Homo sapiens: one gene and its partners. The protein of the gene in region 4 interacts with the protein of the main gene of each other region in a pairwise test. Each region holds a gene or a part of one and is shown on either strand. Other genes may lie near its edges. The genes, in order: PRAM1, TBC1D22B, ESCO2 and FXR1.

Region 1 (7,052 bases), on a different chromosome or scaffold from region 4:
CAAGAAGGCCCCGCTGCCTGAGTTTGGTGCAGTGTCCTTGAAGCCCCCGCCGCCTGAGGTCACTGACCTCCCCAAGAAGCCCCCGCCGCCTGAGGTCACTGACCTCCCCAAGAAGCCCCCGCCGCCTGAGGTCACTGACCTCCCCAAGAAGCCCCCGCCGCCTGAGGTCACTGACCTCCCCAAGAAGCCGTCCAAACTGGAGTTGAGTGACCTCTCCAAGAAGTTCCCACAGCTGGGGGCCACTCCGTTTCCAAGGAAGCCCCTGCAGCCTGAGGTCGGTGAGGCCCCTTTGAAGGCCTCGCTGCCGGAGCCTGGTGCGCCGGCCCGGAAACCCCTGCAGCCCGACGAACTCAGTCACCCCGCCAGACCCCCCTCCGAACCCAAATCCGGCGCATTCCCCAGGAAGCTCTGGCAACCCGAGGCCGGTGAGGCTACCCCGAGGTCCCCGCAGCCTGAGTTGAGTACCTTTCCCAAGAAGCCTGCGCAGCCTGAGTTCAACGTGTACCCCAAAAAGCCTCCGCAGCCTCAGGTCGGTGGCCTCCCTAAGAAGTCCGTGCCGCAGCCTGAGTTCAGCGAGGCCGCTCAGACTCCCCTCTGGAAGCCTCAGTCCAGCGAGCCGAAGCGCGACTCCAGCGCCTTTCCCAAAAAGGCCTCCCAGCCTCCGCTGAGTGACTTTCCCAAGAAGCCTCCGCAGCCTGAGCTTGGGGACCTCACCAGGACCTCCTCAGAGCCCGAAGTCAGCGTGCTTCCCAAGAGGCCGCGGCCGGCCGAATTCAAAGCGCTCTCCAAGAAGCCCCCGCAGCCCGAGCTGGGCGGCCTCCCCAGGACCTCCTCAGAGCCCGAGTTCAACTCACTCCCCAGGAAGCTGCTGCAGCCGGAGCGCCGGGGGCCACCCCGCAAGTTCTCACAGCCTGAGCCCAGCGCTGTCCTCAAGAGACACCCGCAGCCTGAGTTCTTCGGTGATCTCCCTCGAAAGCCTCCACTCCCCAGCTCCGCTTCCGAGAGCTCACTGCCTGCGGCCGTGGCCGGCTTCAGCTCCCGGCACCCGCTCAGCCCTGGGTTTGGAGCGGCTGGGACACCCCGCTGGAGGTCAGGAGGCCTGGTTCACAGTGGAGGGGCCAGGCCAGGCCTCAGACCCAGCCATCCACCCCGGCGGAGGCCTCTGCCCCCTGCCAGCAGCCTGGGACACCCTCCAGCCAAGCCCCCGCTGCCCCCGGGGCCCGTGGATATGCAGAGCTTTCGGAGACCCTCTGCAGCATCCATAGGTGGGTGAGGGCGGGCGGCACCGGCAGGAGCGGGGGCTGAGGTCCCAGGCAGTGCCGGCTTCCCTGCCCTACTCTCTACCCCACAGATCTACGGAGGACCCGCTCGGCCGCTGGGCTCCACTTCCAGGACCGACAGCCTGAAGACATCCCGCAGTGAGTGTGGGGAGGAAGCGGAGGTGGGTGCGGATTGTGGGGCTCAAAGAGGCCTCATCTCGGCCTGGAGCTCCCAGAACTTCGGGAGGCTGAAGTGGGCGGATCTCCTGAAGTCAGGAGTTCGACAACAGCCTGGCCAACGTGGTGAAACCCCGTCTACTAAAAATACAAAAATTAGCCCGGTGTGGTGGGGGGCACCTGTAATCCCAGCTACTTGGGAGGCTGAGGCAGGAGAATCGCTTGAACCCGGGAGGTGGAGGCTGCAGTGAGCCCGAGATCATGCCCCTGCACCACTCCAGCCTGGGCAACAGAGAAAAACTCCGTCTCAAAAAAAAAAAAAAAAAAAAAAAAAGAAGAGGCCTCATCTCAGGTATCCCCGCAGGGTCCCAGATGAGATCTACGAGCTGTATGACGATGTGGAACCCAGAGATGACTCCAGCCCCAGCCCCAAGGGCAGAGGTTTGTTGGTGGCCTGCCCGAGTCCCTGCAAAACATTCGGGGCAAGGCCATTTTCTGCCATGCTCCTGGTGTAAGAGCAAGTAACATTTTAGGACCTGCTGGCTCCTGCTGGGTGGAACTACATAAGGGGAGCCCAGAGGCGAAGGACCAGTGAGAAGGCTGTTGTAGGCAGAGGTGTGGCCCAGGTTGGCAGCAGGAGATGTGGGAGCAGTGGGTGAATTCAGTAATCAAAAGCAGGCATCAGGCCGGGTGCAGTGGCTCATGCCTGTAATCCCAGAGCTTTGGGAGCCCGAGGCAGGAGGATCGTTTGAGCCAATCCCAGGGCTTTGTGAGGCCAAGACAGGAGGATCCCGTAAGCCCAAGATTCCAGACCAGTCTGGGCCACAGAGCGAGACCTCATCTCTACAAAAAAACTTAAAAATCAGCCAGGTGTGACAAGCATCTGTAGTCCCAGCTATTTGGGATGCTGAGACAAGAGGATTGCTTGAGTCCAGGAGGTCGAGACTGCAGACTGCAGTGAGGCTGTGACTCCACCACTGTACTCCAGCCTGGGCAGCAAACACCCTGTCTCAAAAAAAAAAAAAAAAAAAGCAGGATTTGGTGGTATATAAAGCAGGGAAGTTTCAAGCCTAGCACCCAAGGGCATGACAGAGCCGCCCCTGGGTTGACGACAAGATGTTAGGTTCCATTCATTCATCCATCCATCCATCCATCCATTCATTTATTTATTTATTTTTTGAGATGGAGTCTCGCTCTGTCACCCAGGCTGTAGTGCAGTGGAGCAATCTCAGCTCACTGCAAGCTCCGCCTCCCGGGTTCATGCCATTCTCCTGCCTCAGCCTCCCCAGTAGCTGGGACTACAGGCACCCACCACCGCGCCCAGCTAATTTTTTTGTATTTTTAGTAGAGATGGGGTTTCACCGTGGTCTCGATCTCCTGACCTCGTGATCCACCTGCCTTGGCCTCCCAAAGTGCTGGGATTACAGGCGTGAGCCACCACGCCTGACCCTTATTTATTTATGTATTCGTTTTTTTGTTTGAGATGGAGGCTCGCTCTGTTGCCCAGACTGGAGTGCAGTGCCGTGATCTTGGCTAACTGCAACCTCTGCCTTCCGTGTTCAAGCGATTCTCCTGTCCCACCCTCTGGAGTAGCTGGGATTACAGGCACGTGCCACCAAGCCCAGCTACTTTTTGTATTTTTAGTAGATATGGGGTTTCACCATGTTGGCTAGGCTGGTCTCAAGCTCCTGACCTCAAACGATCCACCCACCTTAGCCTCCACAAGTGCTGGGATTACAGTCATGAGCCACCGCGCCCGGCCTTATATTTTTATTTTTTATTTTTTTGGAGACACAGTCTCGCTCTGTTATCGCCCAGGCTGGAGTGTAGTGGTGCCATCTCAGCTCACTGCAACCTCTGCCTCTTGGATTCAAGCGATTCTCCTGCCTCAGCCTCCCAAGTAGCTGGGATTACAGGCGCCCACCACCATGCCTAGTTAATTTTTGTATTTTTAGTAGAGCTGGGGTTTCACTACATTGGCCAGGCTGGCCTTGAACTCCTGACCTCGTGATCCGCCCACCTCAGCCTACCAAAGTGCTGAGATTTCAGGCGTGAGCCACCACGCCCAGCCTGATTTACTTAGACCTGTTGTGTTCAAGGTAGCTGAGGGGATGTCCAGGCAGAACTTGGGCCTGAAACTCAGGGGGAGGTGTGGCCTGCAGGCAGGTGTGGCAGTGGCAGGGGAGGGAGGCTGCCAAAGGTTTCTTAGAAGTTTGTGCTGGGTGAATAGGGAGCAGGCCCGCACCTCCTGCCCAGCTCCACAGTTAATGCCTTCATGAAAACACAAGCAGCTTCCAGGCAAGCACCTTGCCTGCCTGTCCCTAAATCTGTACCCTCCACTCCCTGCATGTCCCTAAATCTGTCCTTAAATCCGTACCCTCCACTCCAAAGTTAATGCCTTCATGAAAACACAAGCAGCTTCCAGGGAAGCACCTTGCCTGCCTGTCCCTAAATCTGTACGCTCCACTCCCTGCATGTCCCTAAATCTGTCCTTAAATCCGTCCTTAAATCCGTACCCTCCACTCCAAAGTTAATGCCTTCATGAAAACACAAGCAGCTTCCAGGCAAGCACCTTGCCTGCCTGTCCCTAAATCCGTACCCTCCACTCCCAAATCCCCACAGGGCAGTAAGGCAATGCACCCCCATTTTACAGATGCACAAGGCTGGCCCGGCGTGGCAGCTCACACCTGTCATCCCAGCAGTTTGGGAGGTCCGGTGGGCGGATCACTTGAGGTCAGGAGTTCCAGACCAGCCTGGCCCGCATGGCAAAAACCCATCTCTACTAAAAATAAAAAAACTAGCTGGGGCCGGGCGTGGTGGCTCACGCCTGTAATCCCAGCACTTTGGGAGGCCGAGGCGGGTGGATCACCTGAGGTCAGGAGTTCGAGACCAGCCTGAACAACATGGAGAAACCCCATCTCTACTAAAAATACAAAAATTCGCCAGGTGTGGTGGTGCGTGCCTGTAGTCCCAGCTACTAGAGAAGCTGAGGCAGGAGAATCGCGTGAACCTGGGAAGGAAGGGTTGCAGTGAGCCAAGATCACGCCATTGGACTCCAGCTTGGGCGACAGAGTGAGACTCAATCTCAAAAAAAAAAATGAGTCGGGCATGGTGGCATGCACCTGTCATCCCAGCTATTCGGAAGGCTGAGGTGGGAGAATTCCTTGAACCCGGGAGGTGGAGGTTGCAGTGAGCTGACATCGCGCCGCTGCACTCCAGCCTGGGTGACAGAGTGAGACTCTGTGTCTGTCTCAGTTGAAAAAAAAAAAAAAGGCCAGGCGCAGTGGCTCACGCCTGTAATCCCAGCACTTTGGGAGGCCAAGGCGGGTGGATTGCCTGATGTCAAGAGTTCAAGACCAGCCTGGCCAACATAGTGAAAACCTGTCTCTACTAAAAATACAAAAAATTAGCTGGGTGTGGTAGCAGGCGCCTGTAATCCCAGCTACTTGGGAGGCTGAGGCAGGAGAATCGCTTGAACCTGGGAGGCAGGGGTTGCAGTAAGCTGAGATCCTGCCATTGCACTCCAGCCTGGGTGACAGAGTGAGACTCCATCTCAAAAAAAAAAAAAGAAAAAAAAATAGGTACGCAAGGTTGAGGCTCTGGGATGGGGCTTGCCCTGGCTTGCACAGCTGGTCCACGAGCTGGATCTGTGGCAGGGCTTTCAGCGGGGGCCAGAGCTTGAGCTTCTAAGGTGCTCCTGCTCTCGCTGACAGCCTCAGAGGGCCTGGGGCAGAGAGGCCCCCTCTGCTTCTCCTGGGCTTTCTCCCTGAGCTTCTTGCAACACCTCCCTGTGAGCACACAGCTTCCTGGTGGGGCCCCTTCTGCTTCCGCTCTAGGGGAGGCTCTGTGGCTTGGGTCTGGGGGCCACCGTTGGGGATGCGGATGGCCAGGAGTGGGGCTGCTGAGCGCCTGGGCTAGTGACAGCCTGCCTCCAACCACTCCCAGAAGCCCTGCTGGAATCCCCCACCTCTTCCGAGGCTAGGAGCATCTGCCTCTCCTCAAACTTCATACAGTCCCCACCCTTGGCCCATTGTTCCTGTCACCAAATAACCTTCTCCCCCTTCCTTGCCAGTCATTTGAGGTTCTGATAGGAAAAAAGAAAAAAGGGGCCGGGCGCGGTGGCTCATGCCTAAAATCCCAGTTCTTTGGGAGGTGGAGGCAGGCGGATCAGTTGAGGTTGGGAGTTCGAGACCAGCCTGGCCAACATGGTGAAACCCCGTCTCTACTAAAAATACAAAAATTAGTTGGACATGGTGTTGCACACCTGTAGTCCCAGCTTCTGGGGAGGCTGAGGTGGGAGGATCGCTTGAATCCAGGAGATGGAGGCTGCAATGAGCCGAGATTGCACCTCTGCACTCCAGCCTGGGCAACAGAACGAGACCCTGTCTCAAGAAAAAAAGAAAAAAAAAAAGGTCCCACTTCCCTGGATCTCCCGCTTCTCAGGAGTGGCGTGGGCTTCTCACTGTGGGTGCAGCTTCTCAAAGGCAGCTTAGGTCTCTTGGGGCCAGGACTCTGGACTCCCCTTTCCCACTGTCTGCCTTACTTGGAGCAGTGGCAGCTCCACTGCAGAGGTTCCTGGAAGGCAGGGGGCTCCTCTGCAGGTGGGGAGAGCCCAGCCTTTCCCAGGGATCTGAGCTGGCCATGCGGGGAAGGCGGGCAGAGGCCTGCTCTGGGTCAGCTGTGGATGAACCAGGGCTGCCTGCATGGCGGTGCCAAGAGGTGCTCTAATGTGGCGGGTTTGCAGGGACCCTGGAGTGCCAAGGTCAGGTTCGCTCCTGGTGGAGTGACTGCTCACGGCCAGGGAAGCCTCTGAGAGGCAGGAGCAGCTGGAGGGGCTGTGTGTTCCAGGTGAGACTGTGGATGGCCATGCCTGGTATCTGGCGGGCACGATTCAGGTGCTGCTCCTTGGGCTGCTTGGAGGGACTACAGGCCTGAAATGTCCGGCGGGATACTTTGAGCCATTCGGAAAGGACATGCTGGGGCTCTGGGTTCTGGATCTTTCACTCACCAGGGTTCCTGGGGCTCCCACCTGAAGCCAATTCCTTGGCCAGCAGGGCTCTGACTTGGGAGCCTGGTCATTTGCCAGGAAGTGGCACAGGGAGACTGGCACCATGGGAGACCCCTCAGTCCAGAGTCTCATCATCAGTCACCAGTCCAGGACGCTTACCCTAGCAGCATCTTTTAAAAATTATTTTTATTTACTATTTTGAGACAGGGTCCTGGTCTGTCGCCCAGGCTGGAGTGCAGCGGCGCCATCTTGACTCACTGCAACCTCCAGCTCCCAGGTTCCGGCGATTCTCCTGCCTCAGCCTCCTGAGTAGCTGGCATTATGGGCGCCCACCACCACACCCGTCTAATTTTTGTATTTTTAGTAGAGACAGGGTTTCACCATGTTGGCCAGGCTGCTGTCAAACTCCTGACCTCAAGTGATCTGCCCGACTTGGCCTCCCAAAGTGCTGGGATGACAGGCATGAGCCACCATGCCTGGCCATGATATTTTACTGTCAACTATCATTGCCCTCCTGTGCAATGGAACACCCAATTTCTTCTTCCTAACTGTAACTTTGTACCCATGGGCCAGCCTCTCCTCATCCTCCCTTCTGCCTTAGTTTTTCA
Region 2 (2,699 bases), on a different chromosome or scaffold from region 4:
ATCTTTATTGTTGTCATTCCCTATTTATGTTTTTTATGTTTTTAAAGAGACAGGTGTTAGTGGACTAGAGAATCAGCAGAGGCTTTCAAGACCTCCTGAGGTGAACTAGGACTGAAAGCTGTGTACTGTTTGGGAGGAAGGAGGCTGGACTCTTTGAGATGTGTGAGCCAGGAGGAAGGGGCCCCATTCTAGGCCTTGGTCTCTAAGAATGGGTTCACTTGTCTGATGGTCTACGGTCTGGTATGATATAAAAGTCCTTTCTTGCATTCCAGGGTCTCCTCATGCTGCTACAGAACCTACCTACAATACACTGGGGCAACGAAGAAATTGGGCTGCTTCTCGCCGAGGCATACAGACTCAAGTACATGTTTGCCGATGCCCCAAATCACTACCGCCGATAGGTGCTGTCTCCTCCGGGGACCCAGACTGCCTTCATCTCTGATGGCAGTCTGATCACTGTGGCCACTGTGCGAGCCGTGGACCCCGGCCAGGAACCACTCCTGTTGTACAAAGCTCACACCCACCGCCCAGGTCTTAACTTTCTGGCATCCACCACTCCATGTCTCTGGATGTGTCACTTGGACCACTGTCAGTATTCCATGCCGCGTGGATGGGCCCAGTTCTGGGAGAGGACAGAAAAGGTGGTACAGGGTTGTCTGCCCCTTTAAAAGAAACTGGACAAAGAAGGGGAAGGCTCAGGGTCTCACCTCACATTGTCCCTACAAGGACAGGCCCCAACTGATAACCGTTGCTTTTTTTTTTTTGTGAACATAGTTTGATTTGATCACAGGTCAAAAACGCCTTATATTTTCGAAAGACTCCTGGCCCCTCTTCCCTCTTCCTGGTTTCCTAGCCGTTCCCCTTCTGCCCCAGTCTGAGCCAGTGAGGGGTAGCTTTTTAAAACCATTATTCTAGATGGAGGAGGCACTGATGCTTGTAACTCTGGAAAGAGGCCTACACCCAAGGGCTAGGAATTTTATTTTTCCTTTTCTCACCAGGTGTCTGCATGTGTGTGTGGGTGTGAATGTGTATACATGCCCATCAGCATTTAGTCACATGTCTGAATTTCTGTGTCCAGACGAGCCCCATCAAACTAGTTGGGAAGGGCCCCAGTGACCAAGTGTATAAGCATCCCTTGAAGAGGGATTGGGGCAGGGGAGGCAGAAGGGGCTCTCCAGACCCCTTTTCCATGATGACCCACTCCAAGATATTATGTGTAAATTGTGTTATTATGTATATGGGTAAAGATGTACAAATATATGTCCTCTTTGTAGCAGATATGATTTTATATTTATAATGTGCATCAACATGTGAAAGCAATCTAGGTCACTAGCACAGAGGAAGTTGCCAGGAAGGTGGCTTCAGCACCTCCAGGTTGGTTCTGGGTGTCCTGCTGTGAGGGGTAGAACGGGAGGCTGCTGAAGTGAGTAGCTGAGCAGCTGGAGCCATCCCAAGCATCAGTGTCTCAGAGTCCTCCTCGCCCCTTTCTTCACCCCGCCCCCCAACCCCCAGACTTTCCTGGAGCATCTGCCCTTTGCTCCTAGCAGCCTCCCCAGGAAGGGACTGCAGAGGCGGGCAAGCCCTCTCTATGTGTTTTTATCCCCACCTTCCCCGGAATCTGGGGAGGGCTTTTGTTTTTACGTTTTCAAGTTCAGCATTGTATTCGGACAGAAGCTGTGACTGAAGACTCAGTGCCAAGGAAAGGGGCTTCTTGTGTGTCCCTCGGGTTTGGGGCTCTTCTCAGAGAGCAGCACTCCATATCCCTTACTGTCACCTTCACTCCCCACACAGCTCATGAGATGTGTGACCCCTGTTTGAGTTTTGGTATTTGGTAGTGGAGGGTGGGGGGATGGGGGCCAGCAGCTGTCATCCTCCTGGGAAGCCGAGCAGTGTCCCTGGTGGGTAACACCCTCAAGTCTCTTTGCCAGTGAGGCCCCACCACATCGGTGTGAGTTAGGTTTCTCATCTGGAGCTGTTTCTCAGGCATTCTTCCCAACCCTCTTCCTTTTCCCCTTCGGTGTGCCTCAGTGGTCTCCTTCATAGAGTGAGAGGGCTTGAGACCCTCCCTCAACCGGACTAATTAAAGAAAGACACTTGTGTTCCCAAGTGGTGGTTTTATTTTTTTAGTTTTTATGTTTGTATGGGAAATTGTGGATAAAGTGAAAAGAATTGTAAATAAATGGTGTATTTCCTCCTCCATCTGCTGGTTTTTCTCCTGTATGTGTCCATGGAACCTAAAGAGTCTCCTCTTTTTGAGTTTTTCTTGCTGATACTAGTAGGTGTGTGGTCAGGCCTTCTGTGAGGTGAGCAGGGCATCAGCAGAGGATCAACCAGCAAACACTTACCCGACATCCATCTATGAAAGGTACTGTGGAAACTACAAAAATGAGTAACTTGGTAAATGAAACTACTAAAAAGAGTTAACTTGCCAACCACTTTGAGAAGCACTTTACATGGATTATTTCATTCATCTAAAAGAAGTATGTTATCTGATAGAGGGTAGAAAACAGACTAGAATTTCAGTGCTGGATGAAAACTTGGAGATATCTAGTTTAACCCCCTCATTCGCAGAGGAAAATCCAAGCCAAGGCCAAGGAAGACAGCATCAGAGTCAGAACCAGAGACCCGGTGTCCTCCTGGCTTGCCTGTTCAGTGTGTTTCCACCAGAGTAGAAAGAACTAAGATGGCCGCCATGTAGG
Region 3 (6,858 bases), on a different chromosome or scaffold from region 4:
AAAAAAAAAAACAAAAACAAAAACAAAAAACTCACCTTTAACAAGCATATAGAGTAGCAATAGAATAGAAAGTGCTATAAGTAAGTAAAAAAATGGCATTCATTTATTCAACAAGCATTTATTGAGAACTACTAACCAGTCACTACGTTAGGGAAACAAGTACAGTAGTCCCCCCTTATCTGTGGGGGATGTCTTCCAAGATCTCCAGCAGATGCCTGAAACCGAGGACAACACTGAATTCCATATATAAAGGGACTTGCCACATAATGATGCTTTGGTCAGCAACAAACCACACATACTATGGTGGTCCCATAACATTATAACGAAGCTGAAAAATTCTGATCACTATTGCCTGATGACCTGGTAGCCATCATAACAGCGTGGTGCAACTCACTTTTTCTACGTTGAGACCCGTTTAAATACACAAACACCATTGCGTTACCATTGCCTACAGCCATTCAGTACAGCAACGTGCTGTACAAGTTTGTACCCTAGGAGCAACGGTATACTGTACAGCCTACATTTGTGGTAGGCTATACCACAGGTTTAAGTATACTCTACCGTGTTGCTACAACAATGAAACCGCCTAATGGAGCATTTCTCAGAATGTATTCTTGTCATTAAGGGACGCATGGCTACTGGTATTCCCTATATATGTATACCTATGATAAAGTTAATGTATCAGTTCGGTGGAGTAAGAGATTATTGACAATAACTAATAATAAAATAGAACGATTATAACAACGTACTGTAATAAAAGTTAGGTGACTCTGCTCTCTCTCTCTCTCAAAACCTTATTGTACTGTACTCACTCCTTTTCTTCTTGTGATGATGTGACCACGGAAAGCGAAATACAGGACAAGTAGGGACTACTGTAAAGAGATCCTGTCCACGCCCTCAAGGGACTTACACTCTAGCTCAAGCAGACACCATTTAATACCACGTGATAAGTGCAATGCCAAAGGCATACTTGGAACGTTAAGTGGGTCCCAGGAAAGGAATAGCTAAGCAATCTTGGGGTAGGAGCTAGCATCAGGAAAGGCATCTTGGAAAAGATGGGCCAAAACTGTCTTAAGGGAATTAGCTGGGGGTTGATTTTAGGAAAGGGGAATAACAGGAACAGAACGAAACCAAGTCGGGACACTGCATTTCCTGGGAACGAAGGGCACCCTTTCCTTATCTGTCAAAGATAAGTCAGAAGCATTACCATAGGTCACTTCTGAGATCTGGGACATCAACTGCCCGGAGAGTGGCTGGGTGGACATCCCAGGGTCTTTTTATTGTTTTCTGTTGCATCCCAGACCCTACAACCCCTTCCTGAAAGGGTAAGTCGCGCTTCCCTTAAGAAAAAGTTGTTAGCAGGTGTCTCCTTTCTCACAGGGGATAATTACAAGGGTTCAGCCAGAACAAAGGCCGCAGATGGAAGGTGGGAAGAAGACTTGGGATAAGGTGTGTGGAGGAGCCCACAGGCTCTGCCCAATCCCAGGGAGTGACGGGACGTCTTTCCGATTAGGGGACGAGAACTCCCCGATACAAACATAGCAGTGGCATCGCCCCTCCGCGCCCCCCACGCCATGACGAGGGGACGCCGGGGGAAATCCTGCAGCCGTGGGAGGGACGGATGTGCTGGGGGACCGAGAGGCCGCGGGAAGAGGCACTCGCATCCAGAAGGCATTTTAGAGCGAGGGTCAGGCGCAGCGGCGGACTGCGGGTCCCGGCTTCGGAGCCCGCTGTCCAGCAGGGTCCAGGAGGACGTGGCGCCCACTCACCGCTGCTGCTGGTGAAGTAGAACACCATGATCCCGGGAGCGGTGCGGTGACTCCACCGCGGAGCAGCAGCGCTCAACTCACGAAGCTCAGGATACCAGACTCGCGGCGGCCGCCTGGCCCCCGGAACTCCTCCGTGCACTTCCGGCGGACGTCGGGGCGCGTCATAACGCCGGCCGTGGGCGCCATTTTTAATCCTGGCGAGGCGAAGTGTAGTGGCAAGGAGTTTGGTTCAGTGATTTGTGGGTTAAGGGAAAGAGGCTGGGCATCTTGGGCACGTTAGTTAACCTGTCTGTGCTTCACTTTCCTCAGCAGCGAAATGAAGATGATACTAGAGCAGCTAACTCACAGGATATTTTTTAGGGTTAAATAAGTTAATGGGCGCCAAGGGTTTAGAACATAGCACACAAACGAGTTGTTTCTGATACTCACCAGGACAATATGCCTCTTGGGGATTGGACTTTGTTCTGGCTTAAATCGAAGGCCTGCCATCCCAAACCTCTGAACCTCAGAGGTCCTCCTGCTATAAAGTAGGAATAATCATATTCATGTAAAGCTCCTACAGCACTTGGCTTTGCCCTGATTATTTCTCTTGAGAAAGCACTTTTATCTGAGGAATGTGAGTCCCTTTAAATTACTAGGTCTGGAGAGGCATTAAGATAAGACCCCATCATGTTCTACCACCCCCTTGAGCTATGTATTCATCTACTGAAACTACCTGCTTCTGCCACAGGTAGCTACCTACTAACCTAACACTGCCACACAAGACACTATGACATGACCCACACCCTATAGTTTAACAATGTCTAGCCAATCACTGATGCTTGTAGTTTCTATACATCAATGAGAATGCTTGACAGTTGTGTATCAGCCCACTTCCTGCCCCCCTTCTTCGTCTTTAAAAACCTGCTTGTAGCAAAGGCCAGACAGAGCTCATATCCAAGCCTGCTGGTGGAGGGCGGTGGGGGGAGGGGGGTTGGAATCTTCTGGGCAGCTGTCCCCGCTTTAACTCAAGCAAACTCTACATTCTTTTTTTTTTTGCCTCAGCCTTTTCCTTTTAAACTGACACTCTTACATCACTGTCACTGACTTCATTCTATGAAATTGAGGGCGTCACTTAACGAAATTTATTTACATGCTTGCTTTGACAGCATGTATACTAAAATTGGAATGATACAGAGAACTTTAACATGGCCCCTGCTCAAGGATGACATACAAATTTGTGAAAATTAAATTTGAAAAAATAAACATAAAACTCTAAACTTATTTGAAACTAAAAATGTGCCAGAAACACTGTACCAGGAGCTGGTGACACAAAGATAGTAACAATAGCTAACAATAACCGTTTTAGGAACTTTCTGGTTTTCCAAAGTAAGAATTTAGCTCTGTTCTGTAAATAGCAATTGTTTTGGGTTCTCCGTTGTATTATTTGTAAAATGGGAATGGCAATAGATATTAATGCCTTACAGATTGTGGTAAGAAGTAAATGAAACAAAACATGTAAAGCATCTAAGAATGCCTGGCACATAGCAGGTGTTAAGTTTTATATTTTAATTTGAAAAATAAATAGAAACCTAAAGTTACTAATAAAAAAAGTGAAACTGACAATGAAGCTTCAAATGTGAAAAATAAGTGCATCGAGAATCTTGGAGAGGCCTTTATTTATTTATTTATTTATTTATTTTTGAGACGGAGTCTTGCTCTGTCGCCAGGCTGGAGAGGCCATTTTACAAAAATTTCTTACCCCGTGACCCCAGAATGTATCTCAACTTCAACTGGACCGAGAACTACAATTCCCAGAATGCACCTAAACAAGGCCCCGGGAACGGAGTCCGGCGTTGCTGCAGGGGATTGTGGGTGGCGTGGTTTCCCTCAGAGATTTTTCACCTCACCAGGGCGCGAGAATCTTGGAAACAGCCACCAGGGTGGGCGGGGCAAGGGCTGGTGCTCCACCAATCACCGAGCCAGCCCCTGGAAGCGCTGAGCCGTGGCCAATCGGAACGCAGCGGCTTCCTCCTAGCCTGGCGCGCGATTATTTGAAGACGCTCACGGAGCGGCTGGCTAGGCTGAGGAGAGCTCGCCGGGCTCTGAGGCGCAGGTAACCTCTGGAGTAGGCCGAGGCGGGGGGCTGTGGAAGGCTGAGGCGAGCGGGAGACCCTGTGGAACGTGGGGGCGAATGTCACGGGGAAAGAGCTTTTGCTCGGCGCTCGGCAGGTCCGCAGGCCCGAGACCGAAGAAGCCACTGACTCGTTCTCCGCGCTCACAGGCGCCGGGTTTCCCTCTTCCCGACGCCGGCGTTTCCTTGTTTTGGGTTTAGGGTTTGTTTGTTTGTTTGTTTCCCTGACCGGGTTCAGGGTCGGGACGCTTTCCTCTCCTACCTTTCCTCGCTTAGCCCCAGAGGGGTCCCCCCTTAAGCCGCAGCTCGACCTGAATTCCCAGAGACCCTGGCCTTTCAGTTTGTTCATTCATTAATAGCTTTGAAATAACGCTTGTGTGCTGCTTTGGGGGGAATTTCCCTGATCCCAGGGAAGGGGAAGGAAATGAATTCTGACGAGCCACGTAGCCGCCTGCTCGTGCATTCTAGCATTTGTTTTCAGCAGCCTTACGACTTCAAGAGATTTTTATAAAAAGGGAAGCAAACGGCTTGCTCCGGGCTCATCAGCTAGGAAAATGGCAGAGGACTGTGCTTCACCCGTTTTCTTGCTGGGCTCTGATGAAAAGTTACAGACGGTCTCTGCCTTCATTGAAGGCTGTTGAGATGGGGAAACAAGAAAATGTCTTAAATGGACTATTAGGGAAATACAGGGTGCCATGGAAGCAGAACAAGCGCGTGTAACCCTTGGAGGGGTGGAAGGAGAGCAATGTCGAGGAAGACCTCCCAGAAAATAGGGTTTTAACTTGGTGTGAAATAGACTAATTAAAGGGGGTATAATTTTGATAAAGCGATTTTTAATATTTTGATGAATGTGGTTATTGTCATTTCTTTTAGGAATTCAATAAAGAAAATGGCAGCTCTTACTCCAAGGAAGAGGAAGCAGGATTCTTTGAAGTGTGACAGGTGAATCTCAGCCTGTGAATAGAAACTCTTAGAAAAATCCACCTTCTTGTCTCTCTTGTTCTCTCCTATTTTCTAAAATTTTCGTTCTTCCACTAGCCTACTCCTTGTGGCTACAGTGATAACCTGATAACCTATATTCTAATTCTAGCTTGGAAATACATTAAGTTTTCATAATGAATTATTTAGTCCTTTTCAAGGGAATCAAAGCTGTTTTTTAGTTTTTGTTTTTTTCTTTTGACATAGAAGCAGCACATTGAAGAAAGCTGTTTTCTATAGCTAGGAAATATACCAAATCAGCTATTACCTTTTTCCTTTCTGTTCCCCTATAATATTTTACAGTGTTTTGCATACAGTAGATGCTTGTCTGGAAACAATTCTAGAAAGACTGTGTACTCAGATATTAATTACTCTACCCAGGAAAAGCCCCAGGGGGTCAGTTCATTACAGACAGTTATTATAGGGGGCTTGTAAACAATAGAGCAAAATATATGAGCTATAATTTATATATGGCCAACACATAGAAATCGATTTTAAAACATACATGCATATATGTCTATCATAGCTTCTTTGTATATAGTATTTGTTTTCATGAACTCTTTGGGAAGATATTTGAATGTTTTATTTGATAAAGACAGAATTTGAGAATCCTACTGTTAAACTAATAGAAAATTGTGTGTATGGGGGGTACATGTATTGTTTTTAATATGACCTACAAGTAGAGCTTACTTAGCAGTAGATTTATGTAAATTTTGACGCAAAATAATCTTATCAATGGACTTTGTTTCTTTTTATAGCCTTTTACACTTCACTGAAAATCTGTTTCCATCACCTAATAAAAAGCACTGTTTTTATCAAAACAGTGATAAAAATGAAGAAAACCTGCATTGCTCTCAACAAGAGCATTTTGTTTTAAGTGCGCTCAAAACAACTGAAATAAATAGACTGCCATCAGCAAATCAAGGCTCACCATTTAAATCTGCGCTCTCCACTGTATCTTTTTACAACCAAAATAAGTGGTACCTCAATCCACTGGAGAGAAAGCTGATAAAAGAGAGTAGATCTACTTGTCTAAAAACTAATGATGAAGATAAATCTTTTCCCATTGTGACAGAAAAAATGCAAGGAAAACCAGTCTGCTCCAAGAAGAACAACAAAAAACCACAGAAGAGTTTAACTGCTAAGTATCAACCAAAGTATAGACACATCAAGCCTGTATCAAGGAATTCTAGAAATTCCAAGCAAAATCGAGTGATCTATAAGCCAATTGTGGAGAAGGAAAATAATTGTCATTCAGCTGAAAATAATTCCAATGCTCCTCGGGTTCTGAGCCAAAAAATAAAACCACAAGTTACACTCCAGGGTGGAGCAGCATTTTTTGTTAGAAAAAAATCTTCTCTTAGAAAATCGTCCCTGGAAAATGAGCCGTCACTGGGACGCACCCAAAAGAGTAAATCAGAAGTCATTGAAGATTCTGATGTAGAGACTGTCAGTGAAAAAAAAACTTTTGCGACAAGGCAAGTGCCAAAGTGCTTGGTCCTAGAAGAGAAATTGAAAATTGGACTACTGAGTGCAAGCAGTAAAAATAAAGAGAAATTAATAAAGGTAAAGCTAAATATATCACTTTAAAAATGGCTGTATAACAAAACTTCAGTATAAATGACATAGTTGAATAAAATTTTATTTTCTGGACTGCTTTTATAAAGCCAGATAGCATAGTGTTTAGTTACTGTAAGGAGTTTATTTATTTATTTATTTTAAGACAGGGTCTTTCTTTATGACCCAGGCTGTAGTGCAGTGGCACACTGCTCACTACAGCCTCAACCTCCTAGGCTCAAGCAATCCCACCTCAGCCTCCCAAGTAGCTGGTACTATAGATGCACACCACCTCACCCGGCTAATTCTTGCATTTTTTGTAGAGGCTGGGGTTTCACCATGTTGCCCAGGCTGGTCTCGCACTGCTGGGCTATAGTGATCCACCTGCCTCACCCTCCCAAATTGCTGGGATTATGGGTGTGAACCACTGCACCTGGCCCA
Region 4 (7,052 bases):
ACAGAAGTGGATATTAAGTTTAAAATGGAGTTCAGCATTTCATCGTTCAGTGAGAAAAGCCTCCAGGCAGTTGAGATGGTTTATTTAGAAAGCCAGATTCATGAATGATTATGCTTTGGTGAAAATAGAATAAGGGGGTTAGGTAGTTTTAAGACATAACATTTTCAGCAAATGAGGCTTGATTTACCCACATTAACAAGAGATATTCGAACTGCCTCTCTGAGATAGTTACTCGAATGGGCACCTTCTTTTGGTTGTTAGGATATTCTTTTTTTTTTTGAGATGCAGTTTCGCTCTTGTTGCCTAGGCTGGAGGGCAATGGCGCGATCTCAGCTCACCGCAGCCTCCGCCTCCCAGGTTCAAGCAATTCTCCTACCTCAGCCTCCCGAGTAGCTGGGATTACAGGCATGCACCACCACGCCTGGCTAATTTTGTATTTTTAGTAGAGACAGGGTTTCTCCATGTTGAGGCTGGTCTCGAACTCCTGACCTCAGGTGATCCACCCACCTCGGCCTCCCAAAGTGCTGGGATTACAGGCGTGAGCCACCGCGCCCGGCCTAGAATATTCTTTTTGTAACCCTCAGTATACTTGGGAAAACAGTCATCACTGATCGTTTACCAAATAATTTTGTAGCAGAAAGAATGAAAGGGTAGTAAGGTCGTTATTGGACCTTTTTTTTTTTTGAGACAGGGTCTCGCTCTGTCACCCAGTTTAGAGTATAGTGGCATGATCATGGCTCACTGCAGCCTTGACCTCCCAGTCTCAAGTGATCCTCCTTCCTCAGCCTCCCAAGTAGCTGGGACTAGAGGCATGCACCAACCACACCTGGCTAATTAAAAAAAAATTTTTTTTATAGAGACGAAATCTTCCTGTGTTGTCCAGGTTGGTCTCAAACTCCTGGGCTCAAGCAGTCCTCCTGCCTCAGCCTCCAAAAGTGCTGGGATTACAGGCATGAGCCACTGTGCCCCCCATTATTAGACTTTTTTAAAGGCCATTATTGACTCCATGCTGGAGTATAGTGAAGCAAACACAACTCACTGCAGCCTTGACTTCCTGGGCTCAAGAGATCCTTCCACCCTACCCCAGGCCCCCAAGTAGCTGAGATTACAGGCACATGCCACCATGCCTGGCTAACTTTTGTATTTTGCATAGTGATGGTGTTTCACCATGTTGTCCAGGCTGGTCTCGAACTCTGGAGCCAAAGTGATCTGCCCACCTCAGCCTCCCAGAGTACTCGGATTACGGGCGTGAGCCCCACCACGCATGGCCTTATTAGACATTTTAGTGAGGGTTTAAACATAGCAAATCTAACTTTTTCATATTTTCCAGGTTTTGATGATATATGTATCTACAATGAATGCAGTTCTCTAAATGTAACTAACTGCTCACTGTTATACATGAACCTAGAACATACCAATCTTATAAATATTGATAGCAGATTTAAAATATATCTCTAATAAATTCTAGCTTATTCTGGTTATTCTTACAGTTGGATCATCAGAATGCAGTCCTTGAATACTTTGGAACTTTTAATGACATCTCATTCTATTGAAGAAGGGATAGCCATCTCTGTGCTGTAATTTTAGCACATTTAGTCAGTTGGATTGACTAATCTATTGAATATTTTTGCATTTCATTATCTTTCTTTTTCGAGTTACCTTTGTATACACATCTGCTTTTGACATTTCCACTTACGAAGTACATTTTGGCACACAAACATTTCTTAAAATTTTATCTTCAATTTTTATTTTACCTTTTTTTTCCCCCTGGACAGGGTCTCGTTCTGTCACCCAGGGTTGAGTGTAGTGGTACAATCTTGGCTCACTGCAGTCTCAACTTCCCAGGCTCCAGCAATCCTTCCACCCTAGCCTTCCATGTAGGTGGCACCACAGGTGCACGCTACGACACCTGGCTAATTTCTTTTGTATTTTTGATAGAGATGGGGTTTCATCATGTTGTCCAGGGTGGTCTTGAACTCCTGAGCTCTCAAGCAGTCGACCTGCTTTGGCTCCCCAAAGTTTTGGGATTATAGGTGTAAGCCACCGTGCCTGACCACAAACATCTTAAAAGATGGAAGAATACTGTCATATACCCTTTTAGCAAACCAGGATGATCTGGGTTCTTGTTGGAGGATTTTGCATGATGGAGTCTCAGTTGAGTCATTAACTGGATGAGAATACACATCATCTTTCCCTCTTCTCCTTAGAAATACATTGTTTGAGAACAATGTTTGAGAAATACATCGTTTGAGAAATACATCGTTTGAGAAATACATTGAGAACATTCATCTAAGATGTCACCATCTCAGACTTCATAGTCTGAGGTTTTGCTTTGTAAGATAATTTCACATTTATCAGTACTCTTTGCATCTGTTGTCTGATATCTCTAATAATTAGAAAGGCCTTCCTCTGTAAATTTTTCTTCTCTTCGCAATTATGAGTGAAAAAAATTCATAATTATCAACTGGTCAACGGTAGCTAAAAGCAGACTACAAGGATGGTGTCTTTGGTCTTTTTGAACTGTTTTGAAAGAGATGTGATACCTCAGGCTATGCAGTAAGGAAACTGTATGAACATTAACAGTTTATTTCACTGTTGTATCCTCTAGGTGATGCCATCATTCCTCTGTTCCATTTTAGTCTTTATTTAAAGCATAGCTGAGAATAACTGATGAATGTTGATGAAATTGTAAAGTGTTTCAAGATATAGGAAAAATAAGATCACTAGATTCTACCTTACATTTATAAAAGGGCCCAGTGGATACATATAATAATTACAGAATAAGGGTGAGTTCTGTTCTAGTCTTAGAGAAGTAAACTTTCTTGTTTTTTGGAATATGTCGTAAGGAAGAATATAAGTCATGAGATATTGATCCCTTTGAATAGTTAGATCTGTTTATAAAAGAAATGGAAAAGCTAAAATTGAGTTTAACGGACCCTGATTGGTATATTGGACTTCCTGCTTTTTCTCATAGCTTTTTTCTAATCATGGTATACGATAAAGTTCATTAGTAGGTTTTGGTTTATTCATTTCCAGTTCCAGTATTCCTACCACTTCCAAGATTACTCTCAAATCATCCTGATAGAAGCTTCAGGCTTTCTAAAAGTCTTTGTTTTTAGTTGTTTGTGTTTATCTCCCAGATGGCTGTTAACAGCCACTGATAGGTTTCCCTGATGATCTCTGCAAGGACAGTCAATCTTGGTTTTTATTGGTTTTTAGTTTCTTCTCAGCCCCCCTTTTCTACCTTTCTCTATACTGAAAATATAATACGTTAAAGAAGCTCTGCTGTGTCATAAGAAATAACTCTAATCCCAAGTGAAAGCTTCTGTGACCTATTACGTTAATAAAACTGATATTTATAGATATAAAGAATATGACTTGTTTTTTTGTGGATAGTTTTTATTTTGTTTTTTTTGAGATGGAGTTTTGCTCTAGGTGCCTAGGCTGGAGTGCAATGGTGTGATCTCTGCTCACTGCATCCTCCACCCTCTGGACATGATTCTCCTGCCTCAGCCCTCCGAGTAGATGAGATTACAGGCACCTGCCACCATGCCCGGCTAATTTTTATATTTTAGTAGAGACAGGGTTTACCGTGTTGGTCAGCCTTGTCTCGAACTCCTGACCTCAGGTTATCCACCCACCTTGGCCTCCCAAAGTGCTGGGATTACAGGTGTGAGCCACTGCGTCCGGCCTGGATAGGAATTTTGTAAGATACTTAATGTATTCTGCTAGATGGACTGAATGTGTGTAATTTTTTTGTTCAGTTAAACAATTTTAGTACATTTGATTTAGGTTCTTTAGCACGGGATCTAAATGTCATATCCTCGATGGAATTTAAAAATTACGTTAATCACTTTCTGAGAACAATTTTTAATATTAACAATGTTGACAGAAACAGGAAGACCTGTGTTTTACATTATTTAAAACTCCTTTGTAAGAGCATTTCTTTAAAATAATACTTATGTTTAGTAAACCTCATGAATATGGAATTAATTTCTAAGAAGCTAAATTGCCCAAAAAAGTAGTTTTATTTTTAAGTAGTAAATTTAAGTTACATATCACTTTCTTTAAATTGCATTTAATATGCCAATTTAAATAAAATAGCATTTTTCATTCTTAAGTTTATTGGGATTGGGTATTAATAAAAAGTCATTTACAGCATTGAAATCTTTTGGGATGAATGGATATAGGCATTTTTTTTTCTTCTCAGGTATATTCAAGAGCAAATGACCAAGAGCCATGTGGGTGGTGGTTGGCTAAAGTTCGGATGATGAAAGGAGAAGTAAGTACTCTTCACACTTGCTTTGTGACTAGTTTCTAAGGAAGTACCTCAGTGCTTGGTTTTTGTAAATCTTATTTCAACTGTTAGTTTTATTTCTAAAAGCCTACCTGAGAAATAGTTGATCAGACATTTCCATTAGCATTAATTTCTGTTTGTGTTCTGTATTGGCAAACACCAAAGCTGCTCTCCAGAGGTACACCTCAAGCATGTAAGGACCGCCAAGGTTCATGCTTGTAAGAACCTATAATCTAGTTTAGGCAAATCAGATTGATGTAGCTAAGCTGTGCTTAGTATTTTATGCCACATGGGGGAGGGTCCGTTGGTTAAGCTGAGCAAGGTAATTAGAACTTCATTTAAACTTCATTATTTTTGTTCAGATGGGATTTTTAAAGTATTTTGATGTCTTTTAGTTTTATGTCATTGAATATGCTGCTTGTGACGCTACTTACAATGAAATAGTCACATTTGAACGACTTCGGCCTGTCAATCAAAATAAAACTGTCAAAAAAAATACCTTCTTTAAATGCACAGTGGATGTTCCTGAGGATTTGAGAGAGGCGTGAGTAATTTTATATACTATTGAATTGTTCTGTGAATTAAGAAGATTTTTCAGTCCTACAAAACATTTTCCCTAATGCCCAATCAAACCTTCTGATGGAAAATCATCTTAATGAACAAAGGTTTTAGTGGGGCTTGTCAAAATGAAACACTGACTTTGTATTGTGACTCTCCTCTGACTTTAATCTGTTATTGAGTTCTTACACATAAATTGATTTCTCTCTAGGTGTGCTAATGAAAATGCACATAAAGATTTTAAGAAAGCAGTAGGAGCATGCAGAATTTTTTACCATCCAGAAACAACACAGCTAATGATACTGGTAAGATAGTACCATATTATAAGGTAGCTTATTAATGGATATTGCACAGATTTTATAATTACATATTTCAGAAGAGAAAAGCTAAGATCAACTTAGTGTATAGTGAATTTATTAATATAGTGTGGGAGAAAAATTTGTTTGCAGCTATAAAATGTTAATTACATTCTTAACATCATAAAATTCTTAATGTGTGAGATTCCGGATTTTTCCCCAATCAAACATATTCTGAATAGCAGATCTAAATAATACAGGAATTCAGAAAGGAAAGTGTGATTACTCAGAGTAGTGAGTGTTAGGTGAAAGAAGTGTAGTAGATGAGAAGCAAGGAAGGCTTTGCATAGAAGATGGGATGGTGTTTGTGCTATTTGGAAGAATGATTAAAGTTTTGAGTAATTAGCTTGTTTGTTTATAGTCTGCCAGTGAAGCAACTGTGAAGAGAGTAAACATCTTAAGTGACATGCATTTGCGAAGTATTCGTACGAAGTTGATGCTTATGTCCAGAAATGAAGAGGCCACTAAGCATTTAGAAGTAAGTGGGTTTACTTACAAAAGAGTTTTCTGTGTCCCATTTAGTTTTTGTTTGTTTTTTGGAGACAGATTCTGGCTCTGTTGCCCAGGCTAGAGTGCAGTGGCACAATCTTGGCTTACTGCAACCTCCACCTCCCGGATTCAAGCGGTTCTCCTGCCTCAGCCTCCGTGTAGCTGGGATTGCAGGTGTGCCCCACCAAGCCCAGCTAATTTTTGTATTTTAGTAGAGGTGGGGTTTTGCCATGTTGGCCAGGCTGGTCTCGAGCTCCTGGGCTCAAGTGATTGCCCGCCTCAGCCTCTCAAAGTGCTGGGATTACAGGCATGAGCCACCGAACCTGGCCCCCATTTAGTTTTATATTTTTCAAGTTCCTTGCTTCAAACGAAGGCAGCCCAGGACCTCTGTTTCGTGACTGTTTGGAGTTGTGTCCGTAGAACAATTGCTTTTCCATTTTACCTTTTATCAAACATAGCCTTTCCTTTGCGAAATGCCTGTTGACTTGTTGGTAGGACTTAGATGACAGGTGCCAAAGAGCTAAGAAACTAGGGATACTCAGTAGACTGTATTGCTAGTTCTTTACTTTGTATTTAACCTTTTTATTTTTTTAACTGCCTTGTCATCTGTCAGTCATGATATCTTTCATCAGTAACTAGTTCACTGTAACAACTCTTGTGTGAGAGGAGAGGAGGACTAGGAGTGAGGCATCATGTGGCATGTAGTATTAAAATATTAAGCTTATCATTATATCTCTGTCTTATCCTAAGGTACTCTGTTTTGTCCTGTTCTTCCCTGCTACACTAGTAGGATACTTGTTCTTCCCACTCACTCACACTTTCTAGATCTAGATGAACACATGTGCATGCACACACTGTGATGTCTCAGAGAAATTAAGATATGTTTATTATCCTTAGGACAAATTTGGAAATGTTCTCATTAATTTAAAAATTCTGAACAAGGGATATGTGAACAAATCTGCCTGTATCTGGAAAAGTGTTTTAGACTAATAAAATAGATGAATAAAACAGTTTCTTTTCCCCATTCATTTTATGACATTAGATGAGTTTCCTTTGTTTCTTAAGAAACTTGAGTTTTGGCCTTTTTAAAAAAATTTATGTGGGTTTTCGGTGGTTTTTTCTTCTTGGGTTTTTCTTTATACTGTGGTAAAGTACATATGAAACTTAGCATCTTAACCATTTTTAAGTGTACACTTAGTATTAAGTATGTTTACATTATTGATCAATCTTCAGTACATCTCATCTTGTAAAACTGCAAATCTATACCCTTTAGACAGCTGCTCATTTTCCCCTTTCCACAGCCCCTGACAACCATCATTCTATTTTCTGTTGCTATAAATTTGACTATTTTA

The links.
Region 1: the proteins of FXR1 (region 4) and PRAM1 interact in binary tests that used the Homo sapiens proteins (3 or more experiments, as listed by UniProt).
Region 2: the proteins of FXR1 (region 4) and TBC1D22B interact in binary tests that used the Homo sapiens proteins (3 or more experiments, as listed by UniProt).
Region 3: the proteins of FXR1 (region 4) and ESCO2 interact in binary tests that used the Homo sapiens proteins (3 or more experiments, as listed by UniProt).

The regions. Positions count from the first base shown.
Region 1 is NC_000019.10:8,492,589-8,499,640, reverse strand, and holds part of PRAM1 (PML-RARA-regulated adapter molecule 1), read left to right. Parts: coding exon 1-1,265; intron 1,266-1,351; coding exon 1,352-1,418; intron 1,419-1,800; coding exon 1,801-1,877; intron 1,878-7,052. UniProt on the Homo sapiens protein: May be involved in myeloid differentiation. May be involved in integrin signaling in neutrophils. Binds to PtdIns(4)P.
Region 2 is NC_000006.12:37,330,772-37,333,470, forward strand, and holds the end of TBC1D22B (TBC1 domain family member 22B), read left to right. Parts: intron 1-272; coding exon 273-401; 3' UTR 402-2,199; downstream 2,200-2,699. UniProt on the Homo sapiens protein: May act as a GTPase-activating protein for Rab family protein(s).
Region 3 is NC_000008.11:27,770,744-27,777,601, forward strand, and holds the start of ESCO2 (N-acetyltransferase ESCO2), read left to right. Parts: upstream 1-3,810; 5' UTR 3,811-3,864; intron 3,865-4,755; 5' UTR 4,756-4,771; coding exon 4,772-4,824; intron 4,825-5,618; coding exon 5,619-6,426; intron 6,427-6,858. Other genes in the region: CCDC25 (coiled-coil domain-containing protein 25), read right to left, coding at 1,770-1,797. UniProt on the Homo sapiens protein: Acetyltransferase required for the establishment of sister chromatid cohesion. Couples the processes of cohesion and DNA replication to ensure that only sister chromatids become paired together.
Region 4 is NC_000003.12:180,943,655-180,950,706, forward strand, and holds part of FXR1 (RNA-binding protein FXR1), read left to right. Parts: intron 1-4,210; coding exon 4,211-4,282; intron 4,283-4,692; coding exon 4,693-4,841; intron 4,842-5,066; coding exon 5,067-5,160; intron 5,161-5,572; coding exon 5,573-5,689; intron 5,690-7,052. UniProt on the Homo sapiens protein: mRNA-binding protein that acts as a regulator of mRNAs translation and/or stability, and which is required for various processes, such as neurogenesis, muscle development and spermatogenesis.